Homo sapiens: one gene and its partners. The protein of the gene in region 4 purifies or fractionates together with the protein of the main gene of each other region. This does not show direct contact. Each region holds a gene or a part of one and is shown on either strand. Other genes may lie near its edges.

Region 1 (3,500 bases), on a different chromosome or scaffold from region 4:
CGGATAGAGTTTCTTGAGGGAGAGCACATGCAAAATGCAGCTACTATTGTACTGGTCAACTATTTTCAATTCAATCACTATAAAAATTACAGACTATAAAAATTACAGAATAAATATATGAATGCTTTGACTAAAGCATCTGAGCCTTTAGATTCTAGAAAATGGCAAAACAGCATATCTGCCTTTTGGTAATCAAAGGAAATAAACATTTTCATATATAAGGATCAGTGCCCAGCATATAGCTGGTAGTTAATAAATGAACGAATGAATGATATTATGAAATAAAGTGAATTTGCAAAAGGGCCTGACCATTTTCAAACTAATCTATATAACATGATCAAGTAACAAGAAAAATATGACTTAGGATTGCAAAATGCTAGTGTTTCTTATAACAGTAACAGTCCAGCTGGGTTGGGACTTTATGTCAAAATGCTGGTACTAAAATGTATTATAATTATATCCCTTATCTGTAGGTTTTCAGGCCCTTTTGCTTTCTGTCACTTCTGGCAGTTTCTGGAGTGTTTAGGTATTATATCTTACAATAAATAAGAAGCATTTTTGGTGGACTAATTAAAAGAAATTTAAAAAGAAAAAACCATGGCCAGGTGCAATGGGTCACACCTATACAAATCCCAGTAATTTGGGAGGCTGAGGTGGGAGGATTGCTTGAGCTCAGGAATTTGAGACCAGCCTGGGCAACATAGTGAAACCCCATCTCTACACAAAATTGAAAAATTAGCCTGGCATAGTGGTGAGTGTCAATAGTCCCGGTTATCCAGATGCCTGAGGTGGGAGGATCACTTGAGCCCAGCAAGTCGAGGCTATAGTGAGCCGTGATTGCACCACTGCACTCCAGTCTTAGCAGCTGAGTGAGACCCTGTCTCAAAAACAAAGAAACAAGTAACAAAAAACCAAAAACCTTGATACTCAAGTTATCTCTAATCAACAAGGATGGAAGAATGGGAAATCAAGGGTTAAAAAAAAATACTAGCCACCCCTTATGGATGTCTCTAAGTAAAAATGAAATGTCTACTCTAGCTAGTTTACCTTTAATGTTAAAAACTGGAAACTTCATTTTTATCCCCATTGAATAAAAATCCACTTACCCCTTTTACAATGAAGAAATGGTACCTATAGTCTTTAAGTGATGTTCTTAAGTTCATGGAGGTAGGCTCTAGGAGCCTCTGTAGATGGTGGCTGCTTTAACTTCAGTTGAGAAAGAACATTTATTTTACCTATTACCATACATAATATCTCAGAACTTTTTACTAAATTGAATATTATTTAATGATTTGTATTATCCCATTGACACAATGTTTTTCCCAACTTCCTTGGGATATTATTACATTTGCTGTTAAGACAAACCCAGACATCTTACCCAAATAGAAAATCATTTCCAAATGTACAAACTAATATGGTCACATTGCAGGTCAGGCCACATACAAAATGAACTAATGGATCAGGCAATTAGACCACAGTGCCCAATAAATATGGTAATAGGAAGTTTCTTTATTTTTAATTGACCTGAATGAACAATCCGGTTGAGTGTGGATGTCAAACAAAAAAGTACCGACTTCCTTTATTTTGTAACAAAAACACTGAGGCTCTTTTAATTGCTATTTATGGACCCTTAAATAGATTTATTTTTAGTTACCATAGTGCTGATACAATGTTGTAGAGCCTAATAAATTTGAGTACCATTCATTCACTCATTCATTTGTTGAATTTAAATTGACAGGTTTTATTTCCAAATCTGCCAGTAAGTTGGTGTAGACCTTTGGCAACTCACTTCCTTTCTGATCCTCATTTTACTATTAAATTACAACATGAGATGACTTGCTAATTAACTACACCTAACAATTTACTAGACATAGAAGGGGACAAAAAATAGAATTCACTTTTCAGAAAAATCTTAAAATATAATTACATTGACAAAAGTATAGACACGGAAAATGACTCTGAGGTAATACATAAATATTTGTAAACAAACATGATGAACTAACTGTACAAAAGTAAGAGAATTGCAAAGTCAAGGAAAGATAAGTGTAGGATGGGGCTTGTCATAAAATTTCTATACAGAATGCAGCTAAATTAATTGCTTTCTTGCTTAACTATTTTGGATTTGGTCATAAATACAGTAAAGATATGAACATTTTTAGAAAGGCATCTGACCCCATTTGGATTCTAAAATATTTCAAAGATAGAATATTTGCTTTTTGGTAATCAAAGGAAATGTACGTTTCATGCATAATGTAACCATGATGCTGTACTATGGGAAAATCTGTACCTGCGATTTGGACTTTCTGTGTAACGGCTGCTTAAGTTCCTCTGGCACATGGGAAGTACTAAAAGAAGACAGCTCAGCTTCAGAATATTGATTATCTTCCATTTTCCTCATTTTGAGGCTATCTGTGAAGTGCCTTATATGATCTAGAGCAGAAAGTCCACTTTTATATTCTTCCTCTTTATACCTAAAATGAACCAACGAAAAACACAGAAATTTTCTTTTCATTTGTTATCTAATCAAATCACTTTCATTTGAATCTATCTATACAACTGACAAACTTCATATTGTATCTGCAAGGTAAAGTAGCATGCATCAATTATTGGGTTTTTATAAATACTTACAAACATCATGTCTTAAAAATATATTTCTGTTAAGATTTTTAGTAACTAAAGCCAAGCATATATTTGAGATAAAGAGTTAAAGTCAGTGACACATTAGTCAGTAATAGGCAGAGACAGAATTCATATATTCATTATTTCCATTTAAAGTAAAGCTAATTATGACAATATTTAGTCAACATCCATCATGAAAATATAATAGTCCCATCAATTTAACTGTTTGGTTATTTCTTTTCATTTAAAAAGTTATCATCTATATAGATCACATATATATCTACTGAAGTGAAGTTTATCTCAATTATACTTAACTGATGACCATGCCAGATTATTGTATAATTAGATAACGTCAAAATCTCTATTTTTCTTTGAGTTTTATAGGTAGAGTCTAACAATAAATGATTGTGTACTTATGTAATTTTCATTTTATCTTTCCCACCTCAGGTTAATCAGAGTTGCACCAAACCTGATGTATTTATATGCTTGTGGATTATGTTGATAGCCACCTTATTTTCATCTATTTAAATCTGATCCACCATGTATCCCTTACTAATTCAAGTTTAATTTTTGTGATTTATAACTCACAAATTGCTTATCACAGGAGGAATTGCAACCGTACATGGATCTACTCTAGCTTAGTTTCTAAAGTCACCCAAGGTACTCACCTCACTGGGGATGTCTTGCAACTCATCTCCAGGGCACTGGTTTCTTCATAGTCATCCTCAGGGTTTCCTTCATGTAAATTACTTGTCACTGGTTCCTTTCCTGTTTTTCCAGTAATATCATTGTCTTCATCCTCCTCATCTAACAACACCTCATCTTCAACTTCTTCATCATCCAGCAAGTCTGAATTTTGACTGGTCACCAAAGCCTTTTCA
Region 2 (3,500 bases), on a different chromosome or scaffold from region 4:
GGTGCTGCCTGCTAGGTTGGGTGGGGAAGGGGTGGAGAGAAGTTGGTGGGGGCTTAGGAAGGACGGTGACCATTTTCTCGCCTACTAAGAGAAGGCAGTCAGCTAGGATTCACTGTGCAACACAGCTGGGCAGGAAGAAGAGAATCCCCTGTTTGTAAGAGAACAGTCACATACTAGATGCTGTCTACGGCTTGTGAAAAACACAAGGAAACGGCCACCTGAGAGTACTAAAGTGGCCAGGCCCACGGGGTGTGCTGCAAGCACACAGCAGGCATCTGCCTAGCCCGGCCCCTCTGCAGAGCCATAGGGCCTGCCATGCCAGTGACACTGGGCTTTGGACTGCCAAATGGGGCAAAGACAATAGGAGAGAAAGGCTGAGCTGATTTCTCAGTGGGACTGAGACGGAGATCTAGGGAGGCTGATGCTGCAGACAAGTGCAAGGGCCCTCTGTGGTCAGTTTCAGCTGGCCAGTTCTGCTCTCTGGAAACTTCAGTGTTCAATATTTAAATGTGTGGTTTTGTTTGTTTGTTTGTTTGAGATGGGGTCTCGCCTTGTCACCCAGGCTGGAGTGCAGTGGTGTGATCATAGCTCACTGTAGCCTCAAACTCCTGGGCTCAAGCAGTCCTCCCACTTCACCCTCCTGTGCTAGGATTGCAGGTGTGAGCTCCCATAGCTGGTCTTATACAAAAAAAAGTGTTTAATGTTTTCATGTCAAAGTTAAAACAAAGTGCTTGTACATGGTTTTTTCAAACAGTACACATAGATTGTGTATACAGTGCAGAAAGGGAAAGCTGTCATCCCTTCTACTGGTGGCCCCTGAGGTTTTATTCCCTAGGGGGATAACCGAGTGTGTAGACAGTTGTGCTGTGTCCTGCTGACATTTTTCCTTTTTCCTTTTTTTTTTTTTTCTTTTTTTTTTTGAGACGGAGTTTCGCTCTTGTTGCCCAGGCTGGAGTGCAATGGCGCAATCTCGGCTCACTGCAACCTCCACCTCCTGGGTTCAAGCAATTCTCCTGCCTCAGCCTCTGGAGTAGCTGGGATTACAGGCACCTGCCACCACACCCAGCTAATTTTTTGTATTTTTAGTAGAGATGGGGTTTCCCCATATTGGCCAGGCTGGTCTCGAACTCCTGACCTCAGGTGATCCTCCTGTCTCGGCCTCCCAAAAGTACTGGGATTACAGGTGTGAGCCACCGCGCCCGGCCCTGCTGACATTTTTCTGTGTCCATGTGCACCTAGGTGAGCACACAGAGCTGATTTTGTCTGGGGAAAATGGGATCCTGCTATACACACCATTTTGCAGCCTTTTGAAAAATTCATTAATGTATCTCAGACATCCTCCGTGACAGTCACAGTGCCTACCATTGTATATGTCATCATTTAGTAATTTCCCACTTACTGATGACATTTTAAAATTTTTCATTAAAGAAGAGCTGGGCTCAGGCGTTCACACCTGCCATCCCAGCACTTTGGGAGGCCAAGACAGGATGATCACTTGAGTTCAAAAGTTTAAGACCAACATGGACAACATAAGGGGACCCTCTCTACAAAATTTTTCTTTTTTTTGACGGAGTCTCACTCTGTCGCCCAGGGTGGAGTGCAGTGGTGCGATCTTAGCTCATTGCAAGCTCCACCTCCCGGGTTCACGCCATTCTCCTGCCTCAGCCTCCGGAGTAGCTGGGACTACAGGCGCCCGCCACCATGCCATGCTAATTTTTTTTATATTTTTGGTAGAGACGGGGTTTCACCATGTTAGCGAGGATGGTCTCAATCTCCTGACCTCGTGATCCACCCGCCTCGGCCTCCCAAAGTGCTAAGATTACAAGCGTGAGCCACCGTGCCCAGCCAAAAAAATGTTTTTTTAATTGTCCCAGCTACTCAGGAGGCTGAGGCAGGAGGATCCCTTGAGCCCAGGAGTTGGAGGCTGCAGTGGCTATGATTGCACCACTGCACTCCAGCCTGGGTAGCAGTGGAAGACCCCATTTCTAAAATAATAATAATAAAAAATTCCTTTTTTATACTTTAATATTCACTTATCATAAAATAAATGTTTTAGTTAAAATGTCATAAAGCTAGAAATGAACTCTCTTAGGACCCCATCCTTCAAAGACAACCTGTGCTTTCTTAATTGCATTGTAAATGTTTTAATAAAGTAATTTTTTTTTTCATTTTGCTAGCTAGCTAGGTAAAACATTTTCATGGTTTAGGACTTAAAAGGAACAAAAGGGTATATAGTGAAAAGTTGATCTCCTTCCTACCCCGAACTAGTGTTAAGATTCTTGAATGTCCTTTCAGGTATGTTCAGGCAGACGCATATATTTACACACATACAATGGAGCCAGCTGTATACACTGTTTAGTACCCTAGTGTTCCTCCCTGGCTCCCCAGCAACGTATTTTGAAGATCTTTCCATTTCACAAGTATGGCTGCCTCATTCCTGTTGATGGCTGATAGTATCCTCTGCAGAGATACCGCCGTGGATTTAACCAGTCTTCAGTTGATAGGTATTTGGGTTGTTCCCCTTTTTATTATTATAAATTGTTCCTCAGTAAACATTTGTATATATGTCATTTTGCACATGTATGGGTCTATCTAGAAAAACTTACAGAAGTGTAATTGCTGTGTCTAGGGGGATAATTTTGATAGCTGTAGCTCAGCTGTTCTACAGCCCACTGCCCTTGCTATCTCCAGTAGCTCCCGTGGGAAGTGGCCTTCCCCAAACCCTCAGCAGTGCAACTCAGGTGTTTGGATCTCTGTCAGTTTCACAGCAGAAAAATAGAATCTCCTTGTTTTAATTTGCGTTTCCCTTATGAGAAGGGTTTAGCATTATTTCCAGTACCTAAGCTATTGGAATTTCCTTTCCTGTGAGCTGTATGTTTATAGCCTTTGCCTGTTTTCCTAATGGCTGTTGTTTTTCTTACTGATTTAAGGACTTCTTTAGATATTGAAGGAGGGTATCCTTTATATGTGATATGAGTTATTAACAGTCCAGTACATACATTTTAACATTAAGTTCAGTACACTTAATGAAGAATCACAGAATTTGTTTTTTCTTGCACTGAACACCTACAGTGTGTAGCACTGATAAATGCTTCATCCCCCCCAAGAGTAGAGCCACTGTGTAAGGCTGCACTTGTTATGTACTGCAGAAGCCAGGGGTGCCATCAGTAGACCTCATTGTGAGCAGGCCCGTGTCCCAAATTGCATGGGAGCCCCTTGTCCACTAATTAAAGATTGACAAGTGAAAGGCAGCTTGCTTACCCGATGTAGCACTTGGCAGCTCTCAGAGGCAGCCTTGGTGGTTTCACTGCTTCATAGTTCAGTGCCCCCAGGGTGAGTGCAGCATCAGGGATGGACCTGCCCACGTGAAACCAGAGAGGCTGGTCTTTGGCAGTGGCTGTGAATTGTTGCCACCAGCCGTGTGTAGACAAAAGTCAAGTTGGAGTAAGTGGGGAGAGGTCTGTATAATGCAATGCAAGTTTTTATGACTTGAATTAGTT
Region 3 (3,500 bases), on a different chromosome or scaffold from region 4:
CGTCTGCCCGTGTGAAAAAATCTTCTTGCTCTCGTATAGTGCTTAGCTGTGATGACTCCGTTAAGATCACTTTCAAATGTGAAACAGAATATGCATTCAGTTTAGACAGCAAATATACCAACAACCCACTGGAGAAAACTGTAGTAAGAGCATTACATGGGTGAGTATGAGTGAAACTTAGTGAAAATGGATGAAACTTTTCTGTTGAGATGAATGTAGTGAGATGGGGAAACTTATGCCAAACTCTGGAGAAGGAGAAAGAAGTGTTGTGTTTAAAACCAGTAATTTGATAATAACATCAAGCAAACATGTTTCCTGGCAATTAAGAGTAACAGGCTGGTTTTCCCCCTGTGCTCATGTGGAGAAGTTTTTAAAGATAATTTTAGCCTAATGAATAGCTTTCCATTTTGCAATGCTCCCTCGTAAGCCCTTGTGGCTTTTGAATTTCAATTTTTAGATGAGATCTTAATGTAAAATAGTGTGAGATTTAGAAATAATGCTTTACAGACTGAATTCCAGAAGAAACATTTTAAAAATCACTGTAGCTTGGTAAATTGGTCAGATTGATAGGAGTAAGCAGTTTCACATAAGATTGTTCTATAGATCTCCCTTAAGAAGGAATCAAGTCAGTAATAACAGAGTGGTGAACAGCACAGGCTTTGGAGTGTAGACTAACCTAGATTTGAACCCGGGTTCTTTCCCTTTCTTACCTCCTGTGATCCTGGGCAAGTTTCTTGCTTCTGGACAGTGCTTCTTAATTGTGTGTGCTGCTCATCTAGAGATTTCACTGAACTGCAGATTTTGATGCATTCTCCTTGGGAGAGGCCTGACATTCTGCATTTCTAACAAATTTTCAGGTGATATCAATGGTGGATGACAGTCTGTGGCCAACATTTAATTATGTAGCTGTGTCCTGAGGTTACATATATTGAGATGCACAGTGACTGGCCAGTAGTAGTAATAAATGGTAACCATCACTGTTAGCAAGCATTCATTAGCTATATGAATTGACATTCAGCTCCCTATTAATGAACTGTTTCACATCTGACTATATGGACTCTACAGCTGTCAGGCTTTCTTCTATACACCTGTTCATATATACTCATAAGGGTCATTTCCTTAGAACTTCCTGTTTAGCTATTGCCCAACTCTGCAGCCCCCCTGACTTATGGTACTCCAGCGATCTGCCATCCTTTTGCCTGCCAGGTGGCCAGAAATGTTTTCTATTTCCCCTTACTGTTTCAGGATATTTTGCAGAACTGTAGTCTGAAAATAGTATAGTTCTGTTGAATTGCCCAGAGAGATATTTTATCTTCAGACTTTCTCAATTATTAGAAGAGAGACACAAAAATGGAAAATAAATGAATCAGCCAGACTTAGCAAAAGCATGGTGATGAGGATTTGGGTATTGGCGAAACCATTTCTATAATAAGTATTCTGTGTCCAGAGTGAATTTGTATGGTGTAAAAGACACGTGCTACCCATGTTCAGATCATGGTTCTGCCATACAGGTTTTGTGATTTGAAAGAAGGCAATTACATGTTCTGATTCTCAGTTCCCGTCTCTGTAAAATGAGTGGGTTAGATGGATAATTATTTGTTAAGTCAACTACATATTTACTCATTCATGTTTCATATCTGTAAATTTTAAAAATAAAAACAAAAACTAAGGAATATTGGAGGCACTTGCTTATGATAAGGTAATCAACTAAAATAACCATTTTCAATGATTTTCATGTGTTCTTTCTGTAAACTCTTAGGCCCTGGAATACTGATTTGCCTGATAATGTGGAAGAAGTGAAGCTTTTACTTCATATGTGGGTAGCTCTGTTTTACAGCAATCAGAACAAAATCATACGATCTTCCCGAAAGGTTGTAGAACACAGCAACCCAGCAAAATATGTGTCTATAAATAGCACGTTAGAATCTTGTGAGCTCCGTGAAATTGAGGAGTCCCTTGGTTTGGAAAAATGTTCTGCAGACTCTCTGTTGGAGACTAACGAAATTTCCAGGGCTCATGCTGCTGAAGTATCCTTCCGTGATCCTAACTGCTTGCTTCCTTTCATTAAAACACCACTTACCCAAGGCTTGGAACTCTGTGTACAAAATGAACAGAAAAAAACTTTTGCAAGAGAGTGTGATCCAGACACCCAAGAAGACCAGAATTTCATCTGTTCTTACAATAATGAGGTATGTAAAGCTGAATACCGTTAAATGTTGGCATTATTTTTGAAGAAAAAAATGTTTATATGTAAAATCACATTCAAAACAAGGCATTTTTAAATTTTAGGACAGTGAATTCTCAAGGTATGTAAAGAACTATTACACCAAAAACCTAGTTTTCATGAAGTGTCCTTGAATTGTCTGCAGGTAGAGCTTACCTGCCATCCCGATTGAAAAAAACCAGAGTAGAAAAATGTCACAGGGTCCACATGATCTGGGAGCCCAGCATAATTTGGGGCAAATTGCTTCTTTGCCTAATTTTTAAAAGAGGTGACTTAATACCTATCAAGTCTTATGTAGAATATTGTTTAAGGATCAAATATAGCAATAATAAATCTTAGATATACTTTGATAAACCTTAAAGTAAACTAAAATTAATTGTATTAAAATTATTTTTGAAGACAGATGCTGGAATAGTAAAATGCCAGACCTGTGAAAGAAGACCCATTGCAAATAACTATTTGTAAATATGGAAAATATACTTTGTTTTGTTCCTTGTTCTCAACTGACATTCAACCAGGCCAGATAATCCAAATTTTACCTGGAGCAAATCTAAAAGTTGTTAACAAAATTCTAAGCAAATGAATTGACAAAATTACCTACCTTTTAAAGTTTTCCGCCCAAATTTATTCTAGAATAATATTGCTTGGGTTTGGGCAGCATCTCTGATTCCTGTCTTAAGAAAGAGTAGACAGTGTTCCTATACCCGGGGTCACCGGGGACTTGGAGGTCCTTGGGTGAGCCTCATAGAACCCGTGAATATCTTCAAGTGATTGTCATCATCATGAGAATTAAAGATTTCTGGGTCACTGTGTGCCAGAAAGTAAGAGTTCTAAGCCCTTCACTCATATTAACTCAGTTCATTCTCAAATAAGTTAAAGACTATTAATCTCCCCATTACATAGATGACGAGACTAAAGCATAGAGAAGTAAAGAAATTGCCTAAAGTCACATAGAAAATTGTCAAGCCAAGATTCCAGTCTAGAAAACCTAAATGTTAACTATGTATGTGCTTTTTTTTTCCCCTAAAGATGGGGTTCAGCAGTTCCATCCTATTCTCAAAGAATTACATAAAATCCAGTTAAGAATCACCACCTTAGAATAAGAAAATATAGTCTAGTCAGGGAGATTTAAATTAATACATATATACATGCTAGTTTCTTATAAAATACCATTTGTCGTGGTAATATGTAATTAACTATCATCAGTACTAATTTTAGCAATGATTTTGGCAAGCCTGACTGTTCAAATCAGTGATTCCTAACAATCTCCTTAGTA
Region 4 (3,500 bases):
TTGCTGAGACCGGAGTGCAATGGCGTGATCTTGGCTCACTGCAACTTCCGCCCCCCAGGTTCAAGCGATTCTCCTGCCTCAGCATCCTGAGTAACTGGGATTACAGACACCCACCACCACGCCCAGCTAATTTTTTATATTTTTAGTAGAGATGGGGGTTTCACCATGTTGCCCAGGCTAGTCTTGAACTCCTGACCTCAGGTGATCCACCCGCCTCAGCCTCCCAAAGTGCTGGGATTACAGGCATGAGCCGCCACACCTGGTCCAGTATGATATTTTTAATGGAGGCTCCCTGTATCTCTTAGGCCTTTTGGTTGGGATTATGAGATACTTTAACTGCTGGATAAGCTGCCAGCTGCCCTGAACAGAGGAAAGGACAAGGGATGAATTGTTGGAAATAAATGGAAGAGTCTCAATGTTGGGCAAAAGGAAAGAAAAAGAAGCTCCCAGAATAGAGGCATTGACCTTACACCAAAGAACTGCAGAGCAAGCCAAAGCAAGAATATATGAGCAATGACATCTCAGTGCTCAGACTAGGGTAGTGGGCCAGGGGCTCCAAGGGGATGTGAGGACAGGGTATCTGCAGTAGCAAAGGAGGGAGGGAAGTCGGGAAAAACCTATAACCAGCTTCCCATCTCTGGCCCTGGACCCTGCCCAGCTGTACCCCTCCCATCTGATATGAGAGATCAGAACAAAGCTGAGAGAACCAGCACATGAGCTCCCTTCTGATGAGTCAGATACCCTGGGCCAGCTGCAGTGAACTCTGGCACATGGGAGTGACATCCACTCTCACTCAGGGGCACTCACGTGGCTCTGGCTCACAAACAGGTGCTTGGGGGCAGCCTGAGCTCTTGTGCTGCGCAGGTACTGGCTCCAGCTGAACTCCTCCTCCTTGTAACCTAGGCCCCTCGAGGGGCATGAACAGAGCGCCGTGCAGAGGCTGGGCCACAGCAAGGGCACCCCACAGTGAAGCAGCAGAATCAGGCATGCCTGAGGACCTCCCCCCAACCCTCAAGAACTTGCCCAGGGATTCCCCACTACTGAAGCAGGACACGACTTGAGTAGACACTCAAAGGGCAAGTGCAAAGCGGAAGTTCTAGGGCTTCTGGTCAACTTGGCCCCAGCGCAGAGTCATCAGGATGCGATGAAGAGAGGCTGGCTTTGGAACAGGGTACAGGGTCAGAAAACAAAAGAGCTGGAAGCCGGGGACCCAAGGGGAAGAAGCGAAGGGTCTGAGGACTCACTGCCTCACTGTGACCAACCCAGCTAGGCCTTACCTTTGGGAGGCTGCAGCTTGTGGCCCGTCTTCTCGAACCAGCCAGCAGGGTGAATGTCAGGGGAGTTGGCATTGACCCAGAAGTCATGGCACTCAGAATACCCATCAAAGTGCAGGCGTAGGCGATAGCCACATACCTGGCCCCATGAGGGGAATCAGGAACTCCAATGTCAGGAGATGCCCCACTCCCCATCTGCCTCACCTCTCCTGGCCCAGTCTGGTGGTCTCAGGGGCTCTAATGCTAGCAGGTTCCCCAACCCCACCTTTCTTTCCTCCCAATTGTACCCCACCCTGTCCTATTCTACAGTGAGGACAGTTCATGTACTCATGAGCCCTGAGTTCTGGATGCAAGGGAGGTGGACCCTATGACAGCTTCCTGCCCTTTTGAGCCCTGGACAGAATTCTGAGGGCAGCCACCAAGGCTCAGGACTGCTGAGGGCTCCTGATGACCGCTCCCTCTGCTACCTTCTCTCACTGCTCCCCACTCGCACTCTGCTTCCAGTCTTGCTGAGCTAGTGGCAATTCCTTGAAGGTAGCAGTCTGTTCCATGCCCCAGGGCTTTTGCCCACTTTGCTCCTTCTGCCTGGAGCTCCCTCCTTATTCACAACTTATCTCTCAAGACTCTGCAAAGGAGGCCCTTCCTCTATGCTTTTGCTGCTCCTCAGACAGAACTGACCCAACTGTGCCTCCCAGCTCAAGTCTGCTGCCACCCCTGTGGCATGTCACTGACATGTTTATTTGGCTGATTCCCCAGACAACTGTGAGCTCCTAGAGGACAAGGACCTTGTTTGACTCATGCCAACATCCCTGGCCCTCGGGATCTCCTCAAGCTCCCCCAGAGTGGACAGTATACATTCATCCAATAATAGGACTGTCCCATGAACTCCATCTGGTTTTTGTTGTTTTAAGCTTTCTATGTATTCCAGCTTCATCCACTACTAGATTGTGTGTGCTCTGAGGGGAGGGAGGTGTTTCCTTCTATGTCCCCAGCAAGATCCATCAATCTGCACTGAGAGACATCATCAGAAAGGTGGTACCAAGCCCCAGCTCACCTCAGCCACGGTGAGGATGAAGTACATGGACGGGTGTTGAGGGTCAATGCCTTCCAACTTCATGCCCAGTTTGAAGCCATTCTTGTTGTGAGTGACTGCCTGGGACTGTCAACGCACAGAGTGGAGAGGACCCAGCTTCCATCCAGCCTTATCCTTGCCTAGTGGGCTTGGGGTGAAGGAGCTGCCTTTAGGCCCCACCCGCCTGGTATTTCCAAAGGGGCAACTTATTTGGGGATCGTTACTACAGGGATCTAGAGAGAGAGAGAGAGAATATCTCCCAGGTCCCTTGAAAAATGTGGGTGAGTCAGGGCTGGACTCAAGGGCTCCCTCTCACCAAAGTCATGGAAAGATCAATGCTGAATTGAGTAGAAGTCACCAGAATTCAAAAGTCTGCAGGCCCAGTGATGAGTGAGCCTAGCTTCCACCTCTCTGTTTCTTCCCACCCTGCCAGCCCCTTATGGGGGGCCCTTTTCCACTCTGGGCCCCTAAACAGTCTCTCCCTTTCCATTCTGCCAGTCCACTGAGGCATGCCTGACACAGAAAACGCCAGAAGGCCTGAGGTTGGTGGTGTGTCCCTAGGCTAGGAAGACAAGCTGTTCCTACGGGGAAATTGTCCAACTCACGTCCTGGAAGAGGCTGACTGGAGCAGTAATGGCCTTCTGCTCCTCTAGGTAGGACTCCCACGACCAGCATTCCTTCTTCTCACCTGTTGCTGTGGAAAGGGGACAGACAGGCTAACTCCTGGGCTGTTCCTGATATATGACTTTCTTCGGCTTCCCCTGACCAAGCTCTACCTTCACCCCCAAAACAAATCTTTGTCTGTGTTCACATGTACCCTCTGGTCCCACCCACCATGATGGTGCCAGACACGGGGCTGAGGGGAGGCTCAGTCTCAGGTGTGGCTACACCAAATTCTGCCCGTCACTTCCCCCCCACCCGCTCAGGCCACTGTCAGCAGAAGTACTCTGGATTATTCAGCAACTGACTGAAGTTACAAAGTCTCAGCCACAGAGGGACCCTGTCCTCTGACATGACAAAGCTGAGTGACAAGTCCTGTGCCAGAGAACTTAATCACAATGCCATCTAAACTCACAAGGAAAGGAGAGGAAAAAGAGAAATGAGAGAGAAAACATGAAAATAGGAAGAAGTGGAAGGGTTGGGAGAAACAAGAA
Region 5 (3,500 bases), on a different chromosome or scaffold from region 4:
TTAGCCAGGCATGGTAGCACGTGCCTGTAGTCCCAGCTACTTGGAAGCTGAGGCAAGAGGCTTGCTTGAGCCCAGGAGTTCAAGACCAGCCTGAGCAACATAGTGAGACTGTCTCTCTCCAACAACAACAACAACAACAAAAAACCTCCTATAATGAAAGGGTGTCAATCTTCAGATTTCACAGCTACTTAGGCACCTGCATAATACATAACAAAAGGCTAGCACTAAACGCATGATAAATATTAGGAAAATCACGGATGCAACGATCCTAAAGGTTCGGCAAGGGAATAGTGCTTGCAAACGGTTAAGAATGAAATTGGGCCTTGCCAGCAAGGTGGCCCACGCCTGGAATCCAAGCACTTTGGGAGGCTGAGGCGGGTGGATCACCTGAGGTCAGGAATTTTAGACCAGCCCAGCCAATATGGCGAAACCCCATCTCTACCGAAAATACAAAAATTAGCGGGGCGGGGTGGCAGGAGCCTGTAATCCCAGCTACTTGGGAGGCTGAGACAAGAGAATCACTTGAACCCAGGAGGTGGAGGTTGCGGTGAACCCAATCGCGTCACTGCACTCCAGCCTGGGTGAAAAGAGCAAAACTCCATCTCAAAAAAAAAAAAAAGAAGAATGAAACTGGGCCAGGCTCGGTGGATCATGCCTTTAATCCCAGAACTTCAGGAGGCCGAGTTCAAGACCAGCCTGGGCAACATGGCAAGGCCCTGTCTCTACAAAAACAGAAAAATCACTGCCGGGAACAGTGGCTCACGCCTGTAATCCCAACACTTTGGGAGGCTGAGGCGGATGGATCATTTGAGGTCAGGAGTTCGAGACCAGCCTGGCCAACATGGTAAAACCCCATCCCAACTAAAAATACAAAAATCAGCTGGAGTCCAGGCATGGTGGCTCAAACCTGTAATCCCAGCACTTTGGGAGGCTGAGGAAGGTGGATCACTTACTTGAGGTCAGGAGTTCGAGACCTGCCTGGCCGATATGGCGAAACCCTGTCTCTACTAAAATTACAAAAATTAGCCAGGCGTGGTGGTGCCCACCTGTAATCACAGCTACTCGGGAGGCTGAGGCAGGAGAATTGCCTGAACCGGGCAGGTTGCAGAAAGACAAGATCACACACCACTGCATGCCAGCCTGGGCAACTGGATGCCAGACTGGGTGAAACCATGTCTCAAAAAAAAAAAAAAAAAAGAGGCCGGGCATAGTGCCTAATGCCTGGCCTGTAATCCTAGCACTTTGAAAGGCTGAGGTGGGCAGATCACAAGGTCAGGAGTTCAAGACCAGCCTAGCCAATATGGTGAAACCCCGTCTCTACTAAAAATACAAAAAAATTATCTGGGCGTGATGGTACACACCTGTTAATGCCACCTACTCAGGAGGCTGAGCCAGGAGAACCACTTGAGCCCAGGAGACGGAGGTTGCAGTAAGCCGAGATGGCGCCACTGTACTCCAGCCTGGGCAACAGGGTAAGACTCCATCTCAAAAAAAAAAAAAAAAAGAAAGAAAGAAAAATCAACCGGGTATGGCGGCACACACCTGCCGTCCCAGGTACTACTCAGGGCACTGAGGCAGGAAGATTACTTCAGCCCGGGAGGTCAAGGCTGCAGAGAACTATCATTGAACCACTCCTCCAGACTGTCTCAAAAAGAAAAAAGACCAAACCAGACTTCTCAAGAGCAACAATGAAAACTGAAAGATATTGGAGCTATGACTTCAAAATGACTTTCCAACCTACCAGCCAAACTTACTAAGCGCACGGGCAGAATAAAGACATTTGCGGCCGGGTGCGGAGGCTCACTCCTGTAGTCCCAGCACTTTAGGAGGCCGAAGTGGGCAGGTCACCTGAGGTTGGGAGTTCAGGAGCAGCCTCGCCAAGAAGTTGAAACCCCGTCTCTACCAAAAATACAAAAATTAGCCAGGCACAGGCGTGGTAGCAAGCACCTGTAATCCCAGCTACTTGGGAGGCTGAGGCAGGAGAATCGCTTGAACCCAGGAGGCGGAGGCTGCAGTTAGCAGAGATAGTGCCACTGCACTCCAGCCTGGGCGACGGAGCGGACCTCCATCTCAAAAAAAAAAAAGAGTAAATACATTTTCAGACACGCAAACCCCAAAAGTTCACCGCTTACCACACCTTCCTGGCTAGCTAACGGAGAGTGTGTTCCATCACCAGGAGGGAATAAACAGTGAGCAGCATCAGACACAGGGAAAGGTGAGGAGACTCCTTTGGATGATGCTGTGTACCAGGCAGAGGGAACATGCATTCTTTTTTTTCTTTTTTTTTTTTTTGAGACGGAGTCTTGCTCTGTCGCCCAGGCTGGAGTGCAGTGGCATGATCTTGGCTCACTACAAGCTCCACCTCCCGGGTTCACGCCCTTCTCCTGCCTCAGCCTCCCGAGTAGCTGGGACTACAGGCGGCCGCCACCACACCCGGCTAATTTTCTTGTATTTTTAGCAGAGACAGGGTTTCACTGTGTGTTAGCCAGGATGGTCTCGATCTCCTGACCTCGTGATCCACCCACCTCAGCCTCCCAAAGTGCTGGGATTACAGGTGTGAGACACCGCGCCTGGCTGTATTTTTTTTTTTTTTTTTTTGAGACAGGATTTTGCTCTGTCACCCAGGCTGCAGGGCAGTGGCACAATCACAGCTCACTGCAGCCTTGGCCTCCTGGGATCAAGCGATCCTCCCACCTCAGCCCCTCAAGTAGCTGGGACTACAGGCACATACCACCACCACACCCAGCTAACTTTTTTACTTCTAGTAGAGACAAGGTCTCACTCTGTTGCCCAGGCTAGTCTCAAACTCCTGGGCTCAGGGGATCCTCTCATCTCGGCCTCCCAGGCATGAGCTGCTGGCCCTGGCCAAGAACATACATTCTGATTGGGGCAGGATGAACATAAGAGAACAAAAATCTTCTCTAATCTAAATCTTACACTAATTCACCATTAATGGAAGTCCATAGTCGACCCCTAAAGTTGGTGAATAAAGACATGACAATACAAACATATATTTAGAAACATGAAGTAAATGCTCAAGAGATGCAAGTGGGCTGCTTCTTCTCTAGAAAGACAGAAGATGATCGGCCGGGGGCGGTGGCTCACGCCTGTAATCCTAGCACTTTAGGAGGCCAAGGCAGATAGATCACTTGAGGTCAGGAGTTCGAGACAAGCCTGGCCAACATGGTGAAACCCCCATCTCTACTGAAAACACAAAAATTAGCCAGGTGTGGTGGCAGGCGCCTGTAATCCCAGCTACCAGGAAAGCTGAGGCACAAGAATCACTTGAATCCGGGAGGCGGAGGCTGCAGTGAGCCAAGATCGGGCCACTGCACTCCAGCCTGGGCAATAGATCAAGACTCATTCTCAAAAAGAAAAAAAAGGGGGGAGGGGGGAGGGATAGCATTAGGAGATATACCTAATGCTAAATGACGAGTTAATGGGTGCAGCACACCAACATGGCACATGTATACATATGTAACAAACCTGCACGTTGTGCA
Region 6 (3,500 bases), on a different chromosome or scaffold from region 4:
CTATAGGAAGGGCAGGGCAGACAGAGGGCTGGGTGGTAAAGTAGCAGCTGGCCAGAGAAGATGATGAGCCACGAGCAGGAGAAATGCTGTGGAGGTGTAAGCAAAAAGCACGTATTTTGGATTCTGTGATAAAGTTTTTTAAAAAGCGGTAAGGACTAAACAGCTCCATGACCTTCTGCATATGTATATATACATATATATACACATACATATATATATATATATATATATATATACACACACACATATATATATATATGCCTCTTAGCTACCCAAATCCTTCAGAGAATCCTTTTTTTTTTTTTTTTTTTTTTGAAATGGAGTCTCTCCACCTGTTGCCCAGGCTGGAATGCAATGGCACGATCTCGGCTCACTGCAACCTCCGCCTCCTGGGTTCAAGTGATTCTCCCGCCTCAGCCTCCCCAGTAGCTGGGACTACAGGCACGTGCCACCACGCCCGGCTAATTCTGTATTTTTATTAGAGACGAGGTTTCACCATGTTGGCCAGGCTGGTCTCGAACTCCTGACCTCAGGTGATCCGGCCGCCTCAGCCTCCCAAAGTGCTGGGATTACAGGCATGAGCCACCACACCCGGCTCTTTTTTTTTTTTTTTTTTTTTTTTTTTTGAGACAGGGTCTCACTATGTTGCCCAGGCTGGAGTGCAGTGGTACAATCTCGGCTCACTGCAACCTCTGCCTCCCGGGTTCAAGCGATTCTCCTGCCTCCTGATCCTGAGTAGCTGGGATTACAGGCGTGCGCCACCATACCTGGCTAATTTTTGTATTTTTAGTAGAGACTGGGGTTTCACCGTGTCGGCCAAGCTGGTTTTGAACTCCTGACCTCAAGTGATCTGACTGCCTTGGCCTCCCAAAGTGCTGGGATTACAGGCGTGAGCCACCGTGCCTGGCCAAGAGAATCCTCTTTTACAGTTTTCCATGGCATTATAGACAAGGACTGATGCTGTGCTATGGGTCAGGAAGAGAGAAGTCTAAGGAAAGTCAGACCCCATGTCTACTTGTAAAGCAGCAGAACTCAAGCCCTTGATCATCATCCTTAAATGGGGTGAGGTAGAGAGAGAAAAGGATAACTCCCTGAGTGGAGGAAGATTGCCTGAACTGTTATAGGACACCTCCTTCTGTCCAATTCCCTAGATATCCCAAGTCCTTGGTTAAATATCACTAAATTTTATAATAAAAAAATATTACTCATGGGGCATATAGTATACCAAAACAAGGAGAAGGCAAAAAGAAATGCAGGTGAGAACCACTGACCTAGTCCAAAGCCCTACTGTACAGATATCTAGGAATATCTGAAGGAGACATTAATTCAGTATTTATTGACTATCTCATACATTAGAGTAAGTGGTAATGTGTCCAAGGCCAAAGAGCGTGGAAGGGTGTAGGGAAGAGTAGCAGCCCCGGATAATACTTAAAGCAGAGATAGAGGATCTACTAATTCCTGTTCTTACAGGACTAGTGATCAGGCTGTTTTAAGATCCACACCAGAAAACTGGCTGATGCTAATCAATGCTAGAAATTCCCAGGAATATAAAGTCTCTCACAGGTAAGCCATGTTGTATACCCAGCAAAATGTTTTAAAGGGTAAGAAAGAAGTACACAGAGGATAGACCAGAACTCTGGGTTCAACTTTTGACCTGTTAAATAAAAAGACCTATCCACTGCTCTGAGAAGGGTAAGAGTATACAAAGTATGGCAGAGGCTGCTAGTTGTACCTCGATATTCATTCTTGTCTTCTGTCATAACAACATGACCTCCAGTTTTAAGTGGTACTTGACCATCCAAAATAAGAATTACATTTCCCAGTTTTCCCTGCAGCTAGATGTGGTCATATGACCAAGTTTTTACTAACAGAAGGTGAATGGAAATGATGTGTGCCTTTAAAAGATTTGTCTAGCCCTGCACTTCCCCACTTCCCTCTTCCACTGGCTGGAATGTAGATGTGATAATAAGCCACCCCTTAGCTGTTACCGTCAAACACATGGCCCAGAGGGCATACCATCATACGGTGCATCTAATCACTATTATTTTGGGTCTCTACTAGACTAGTCAAACCCGTAGCCCAATTAAGAACAGCAATGAAGAAAGGCCAGGGGCAGAATACAGATGACAACCACCGCCACCACCACCATCACAAAGGACATCACTAAATCACTCCTGCCGCTTGTCCCTGTTGCCTGGGTACTCACTGGCACACCATGGGACATGAGGGTGTTGGGATTCATGAGGGTGACAAGTTGGTGCAGGAGGTCAGGCTGGCTATCAAATAGTTCAGGTGTCAGCTTCTTCATCACTTCTTCCAAATGTTCTGCTGCAAGTGAGGGCACCCCATACCAGGTCTTCGGCTCACCCCTGCACAAGTGGAAAAGGGACACACACAGTAAATCACACCTTGGTCATGCAGGGAGCCCACACTGACTTGATTCCCTGGCTCCCCAGGGTCCCACTCACCAGTGGAGGTAGTTAATGGAGTAACTCCAGTGATCCTCAATATGCCAGCAAAAGGCTGAGAAGACCATGCCCACGTAGAGCCAGGGCACCTTCATGCCAGAGATATCTGCATTGATGTGGCACAGTACAGACTGTTCCAACACCGGCATCACATTTAGGTTCCAACCACTGGTAGCATACTCCTGCCAGGTCAGGTATTTGTAAAAAGGGCATGAGGGTTATGCTAAGGAACTGAGATCTTAAGTCATTTTCTTTAGCCTAGGGAACCTTAATTTTGAGGTCAGAGACTTTTTTGAAACATCTTAAGAAACATATAGGTTTTCTCCCTACCTCTCCACCAAAAAGCATACACACAAAATTTCAATTGTATTCACTTCAATTTCTACGAAGTTTACCGATATATCCACCTACCAAAATACCTGCAAGTTAAAAAAATCCTGCTCTGGATCAAAATGTACCCTTTCTTGGAAGCACAACTAGGCCCTCATTTTCTCCTGTGCATACAAACCCCACTCCCTGAACACTACTTATGGATGAGCCAGGATCTCATATACCTTCTCATTTAATTTTTATAACAAATTTGCAAAGTAGATATTATCCCCATTTTAAAGATAAGGAAATGGGCTCACAGAGGCGAAAGAACCCATCTCATGTTTGTACATGCCAGGTACCAGACTGTTTTCTTTCATCTCATCTAAATCTCATGGCTACATAAGACAGGCATAATTATCCTCATCTTACAGAGATACTGAGTTTTTCAGATACTAAATGATTTGCCTAAGCTCACACAGCTGACACGTAACCATGAATCATCCACTCACCTCCTCTTCGGGGGTTAGGTGCCGTTTACTGTCACTGACAGGGAAACCGCTGCCAAATTCTTTGGAATGGATGTCAGCTCCATACTCAACAGTCACATCTTCCTCAATGCTATTTACCAGCCTCCAGAACTCCTTCTCCACAAGTTCTGTGGGCACCATCTGGGGGAAGACAGGTAGCAGATGACTATGGCCCATCACACCCTGGACCCAC
Region 7 (3,500 bases), on a different chromosome or scaffold from region 4:
GATACTGGTGGGTGCTGGCATTCCTGGCTATGGCCCATGTCCTTCCAGTCTACGAAAGCAGCATTTTCAGTTCTCTCTGCCATGTCTTCTTCTTCTTCCTCTTTTTTGGAGACAGAGTCTTGCTCTGTTGCCTAGGCTGGATGCAGCGACGTGATCTTGGCTCATTGCAACCTCCGCTTCCTGAGTTCAAGCAAGATTATCCTGCCTCAGCCTCCTGAGTAGTTGGGACTACGGGCGCGTGCCACCACGCCCAGCTAACTTTTGTATTTTTAGTAGAGACGGGGTTTCACCATGTTGGCCAGGCTGGTTTCGAACTCCTGACCTCAGGTGATCTGCCCACCTTGGCCTCCCAAAGTGCTGGGATTACAGGTGTGAGCCACTGTGCCCGGCCTCTCCGCTTGTCTTCTCATTGCCTTCAGTGTGTGTCTCGTTCTTATAAGGATACATGTGATTGCACTGTGGTCCACCCAGATAATTCGGAATAATCCTCCCTCTCAAGATCCTTAATTTAATCATATCTACAAAGACTTCTTCTTTTTTTTTTTTTTTTTTTTGCCATATGAGGTAACATTGTCAGATTTCAGGGATCAGGGTGTGGAAGTCTTTTGTGGGGCAATAGTTCAGCTTATCCCACTCAGTCGTTTATAATAGACTTTTAATGTTCTTACTTTTATTTTATAGTTTAGTTTTTAACAGGCCCCCATGTCCACTTCTGGGTTGGTGGGAGATGATGGCATTGGGTGGCAGAGAAAATATCTCATCTTTTCTAGATACGATGCAGAAAATTCTAGGTCTGTGGTTCTAGGAAGGACAAATCAGAGATGATAGTTTGGAAATAAAACAGTTAAAGTAACCTAGCTTGAGAACAGAGGTAGGTGTGGTGGTGCTATTTTTTAAAGAATAGAGAATTTAGAAGAGTCACAAGCTAGTTTCAGGTATGGGGAGGAGGAGATATGTAGAGTGTGGGACATACTGAGTTTTCAGAAGTTCTGAAATATGGTAAAATTAGTAATGGTGGATATATTTTTGGCAAATGCATGTTCAGTGGATTGTTGGTGTAGAAGTCACTTTATACTAGATTAAAGATTAAATTGAAGATGGGGAGTATTGATACATTCTATTCTCTAGAATAATGATGCTTGGCATTTAGTAAGTAATCAGTGTTGGCTATTATGATAATTACTGTGGTTGCTCTAACAAATTACTTTGTTATATACTTTTATGTGTATATACTTTTATGTGTTCCAATACTATAACATTTTTGTCTTCAGCTGTTTGGTGTGTGTCTTGATATGTACATAATATTAAATAAATACTGATCTAGAAAGATGTGTGTTTTAGTAATTATTTTAATTATTGCCATTGCCATACTATTAAAATTAATGAAAACAATTTAGAATTTTTTTTAAAAAAAAGAATTAGTTTCAATTTCTCATTTGAATAGATTATTATTTCTCAAAAAAAGCAGTGAGGTTGGGGGGCACTTAGCAATAGTTTCCTAAAGATTAAAATGATGGTATTCTGGTTGAATGGTTTTTTTATGTTATATCAAGAAATATAATTTGGTTTGTGTTTTTTCATTTAAAATAATAGTGTATTGTAGCTATGGTTATTCATGCCTGAAACAAAAAATTAAACCTTGGTCATTGTGTGTATTTCTTTCAGGTTTGATTTAATTTTGGATGAGATCGTTCTTGCAGCAAGATGTTAATAAGACAAAATCTAGGTAAGTAGAAGACTGCTTTGTTAAATGTACATATCAAGGTAGGAATAATACAAAAAAATTATGTCTTAAAAATGTGGTGTTGAGTTCAGAACCAAAGAGTTTTTAAATAAAATTTTGAAATGCAAATAATTGACTTTTTGACACACTTGGTCCAGTTGATTTGATGGGAGTAAAATTATAACTATCACATTGTGGAACTAAATTTTTAGTTTCCTTCTTTTGTGTTGAGGTTAACTAAAGCATTCAAGTTTCCAGTGAATATTCTAAAATGTTAGAAAATCAAGTTAATGTTTGGTTCAGCCACTCTTATTGAACTCTGACCACTTCAGTAAGACATTTATTGTGTCACTTCATTGTTCTCTCCTTTGTTGATAAAGTATATGAATAGTCATTGCTTTTGTGAATTTTGCTTCATTTTTAATGTTAAGGAAGCACTTTCCCAAATGGGATAAATTTGCCAAATTGTGATTTCTTTCTGTTAATATAGTATTCAAAATTGTAAATTATTGTTTTAATGTTTTCCTAGTGGGTGTCTCTACTGAATGACCTCTCTAATATAGCATTCTGATTAGCTTTCTAAGGCTGTTCACTTTTAAAAAATTGAATTGGCATCATGTACTTTGGTATGTGAAAGAATGCTTTTTAATAATATAAGCCGTTGACATGTTTTAAAAAGATACATTTACTATTTATTGGTAAGTGAATATGGCTTCAAAATGGAAACAAGGGAAAAAGAACATTGAAAAAATTGGAGTTAACTTGGTTTTCCCTCTAACCAGATGTTTCAGCTGTCAAAAATTTGCTGATCTCAATGTTTGTTAAAGAAAAAAAAAGTCTAGGATGAAAAGTGCTGTAGTTCAGTAATATGCACTGAAGGAAATCTCAGTCAGTGGTTTGGGCATGTTTTGAAGCAAAATTTTGCTTTTATTGCTATTATATAATAATAACAGTAGTGGTAGTTTGAAGAGTACTTATTGTGCTCTAAATTCTGTTAAGTGCTTGTCATACCTTATTGATCGTTATAGTACCTCCTCTTGTTGTGTAGAAAAATTTTATTTTTTGCTTTATAGTGGGCTGTTTTTCTTTAGGAATAATAATTTACTTCTGTAGCATTTATTAGAAATAACACTTGCCTATGTATCTTCTTAAAGTGGAGAAGAAGCCATTCTTTTGTACTTGAAGGTCTTATTAGGGTTTGTTTTCTAGTTGAATATACAGTGTCTGTTAAAACTTTTGTTCTGATTTTCTATGTTTGATATTGCTTGTGGGATGACACTGGTTTAACTTATTCTGACCTTATTTTTCACCATGCTTATATATGTAGTTTTTTCTTTTTTATTATGGTATAGTTTACATATATATGGTAACATAAAATTTGAGGTATAGAGCTGAATGACTTTTCACATACACATTCATATGTGTAACCACCATCTAGATCAAGATATAGAACATTTCATTACTTTGGAAAGTTCCTTGTGCTTTCCCCGCTTCCAGTCTAATAGCCTTTTCCCCTGAAGTAATCATCTTTCTGAATTCTGTCAGCATAATTTAGTTTTGCCTGTTCTTGGATTTTATATATAGTATGTACTCTTGTATGTGGCTTTTTCATTCAACATAATGTTCTTGAGCTTCATCTATGTTGTGACTATGTCAGCAGTTCATTATTTTTTATTGCTGTTTTATTTTTAGTAATATTCCATTGTATGAACACACTACAAAGTATTTATGTTTTCTCAGTGATTTGGTTTATTGGATTCTCCATATCTCTGTTCCT

The links.
Region 1: the proteins of L3MBTL1 (region 4) and MECOM purify together in Homo sapiens (affinity purification with mass spectrometry; 2 studies listed by BioGRID and IntAct, with this or other methods). This does not show direct contact.
Region 2: the proteins of L3MBTL1 (region 4) and TUBB6 purify together in Homo sapiens (affinity purification with mass spectrometry; one large-scale study listed by BioGRID and IntAct). This does not show direct contact.
Region 3: the proteins of L3MBTL1 (region 4) and TASOR2 purify together in Homo sapiens (affinity purification with mass spectrometry; 2 studies listed by BioGRID and IntAct, with this or other methods). This does not show direct contact.
Region 5: the proteins of L3MBTL1 (region 4) and EHMT1 purify together in Homo sapiens (affinity purification with mass spectrometry; 2 studies listed by BioGRID and IntAct, with this or other methods). This does not show direct contact.
Region 6: the proteins of L3MBTL1 (region 4) and KDM5C purify together in Homo sapiens (tandem affinity purification; one study listed by IntAct). This does not show direct contact.
Region 7: the proteins of L3MBTL1 (region 4) and ZNF644 purify together in Homo sapiens (affinity purification with mass spectrometry; 2 studies listed by BioGRID and IntAct, with this or other methods). This does not show direct contact.

Annotation. Positions count from the first base shown.
Region 1 is NC_000003.12:169,086,713-169,090,212, forward strand, and holds part of MECOM (histone-lysine N-methyltransferase MECOM), read right to left. Parts: coding exon 3,288-3,500; intron 2,472-3,287; coding exon 2,288-2,471; intron 1-2,287.
Region 2 is NC_000018.10:12,318,241-12,321,740, forward strand, and holds part of TUBB6 (tubulin beta-6 chain), read left to right. Parts: intron 1-2,295; exon of another isoform or gene 2,296-2,422; coding exon of another isoform or gene 2,423-2,504; intron 2,505-3,500. UniProt on the Homo sapiens protein: Tubulin is the major constituent of microtubules, a cylinder consisting of laterally associated linear protofilaments composed of alpha- and beta-tubulin heterodimers.
Region 3 is NC_000010.11:5,740,338-5,743,837, forward strand, and holds part of TASOR2 (protein TASOR 2), read left to right. Parts: coding exon 1-160; intron 161-1,759; coding exon 1,760-2,189; intron 2,190-3,500.
Region 4 is NC_000020.11:43,528,197-43,531,696, reverse strand, and holds part of L3MBTL1 (lethal(3)malignant brain tumor-like protein 1), read right to left. Parts: intron 3,041-3,500; coding exon 2,952-3,040; intron 2,495-2,951; exon of another isoform or gene 2,434-2,494; coding exon 2,329-2,433; intron 1,414-2,328; coding exon 1,278-1,413; intron 900-1,277; coding exon 808-899; intron 1-807. UniProt on the Homo sapiens protein: Polycomb group (PcG) protein that specifically recognizes and binds mono- and dimethyllysine residues on target proteins, thereby acting as a 'reader' of a network of post-translational modifications.
Region 5 is NC_000009.12:137,622,005-137,625,504, reverse strand, and holds part of EHMT1 (histone-lysine N-methyltransferase EHMT1), read right to left. Parts: intron 1-3,500. UniProt on the Homo sapiens protein: Histone methyltransferase that specifically mono- and dimethylates 'Lys-9' of histone H3 (H3K9me1 and H3K9me2, respectively) in euchromatin.
Region 6 is NC_000023.11:53,208,208-53,211,707, forward strand, and holds part of KDM5C (lysine-specific demethylase 5C), read right to left. Parts: intron 3,449-3,500; coding exon 3,290-3,448; intron 2,651-3,289; coding exon 2,469-2,650; intron 2,370-2,468; coding exon 2,207-2,369; intron 1-2,206. UniProt on the Homo sapiens protein: Histone demethylase that specifically demethylates 'Lys-4' of histone H3, thereby playing a central role in histone code. Does not demethylate histone H3 'Lys-9', H3 'Lys-27', H3 'Lys-36', H3 'Lys-79' or H4 'Lys-20'.
Region 7 is NC_000001.11:90,980,536-90,984,035, reverse strand, and holds part of ZNF644 (zinc finger protein 644), read left to right. Parts: intron 1-1,665; 5' UTR 1,666-1,682; coding exon 1,683-1,726; intron 1,727-3,500.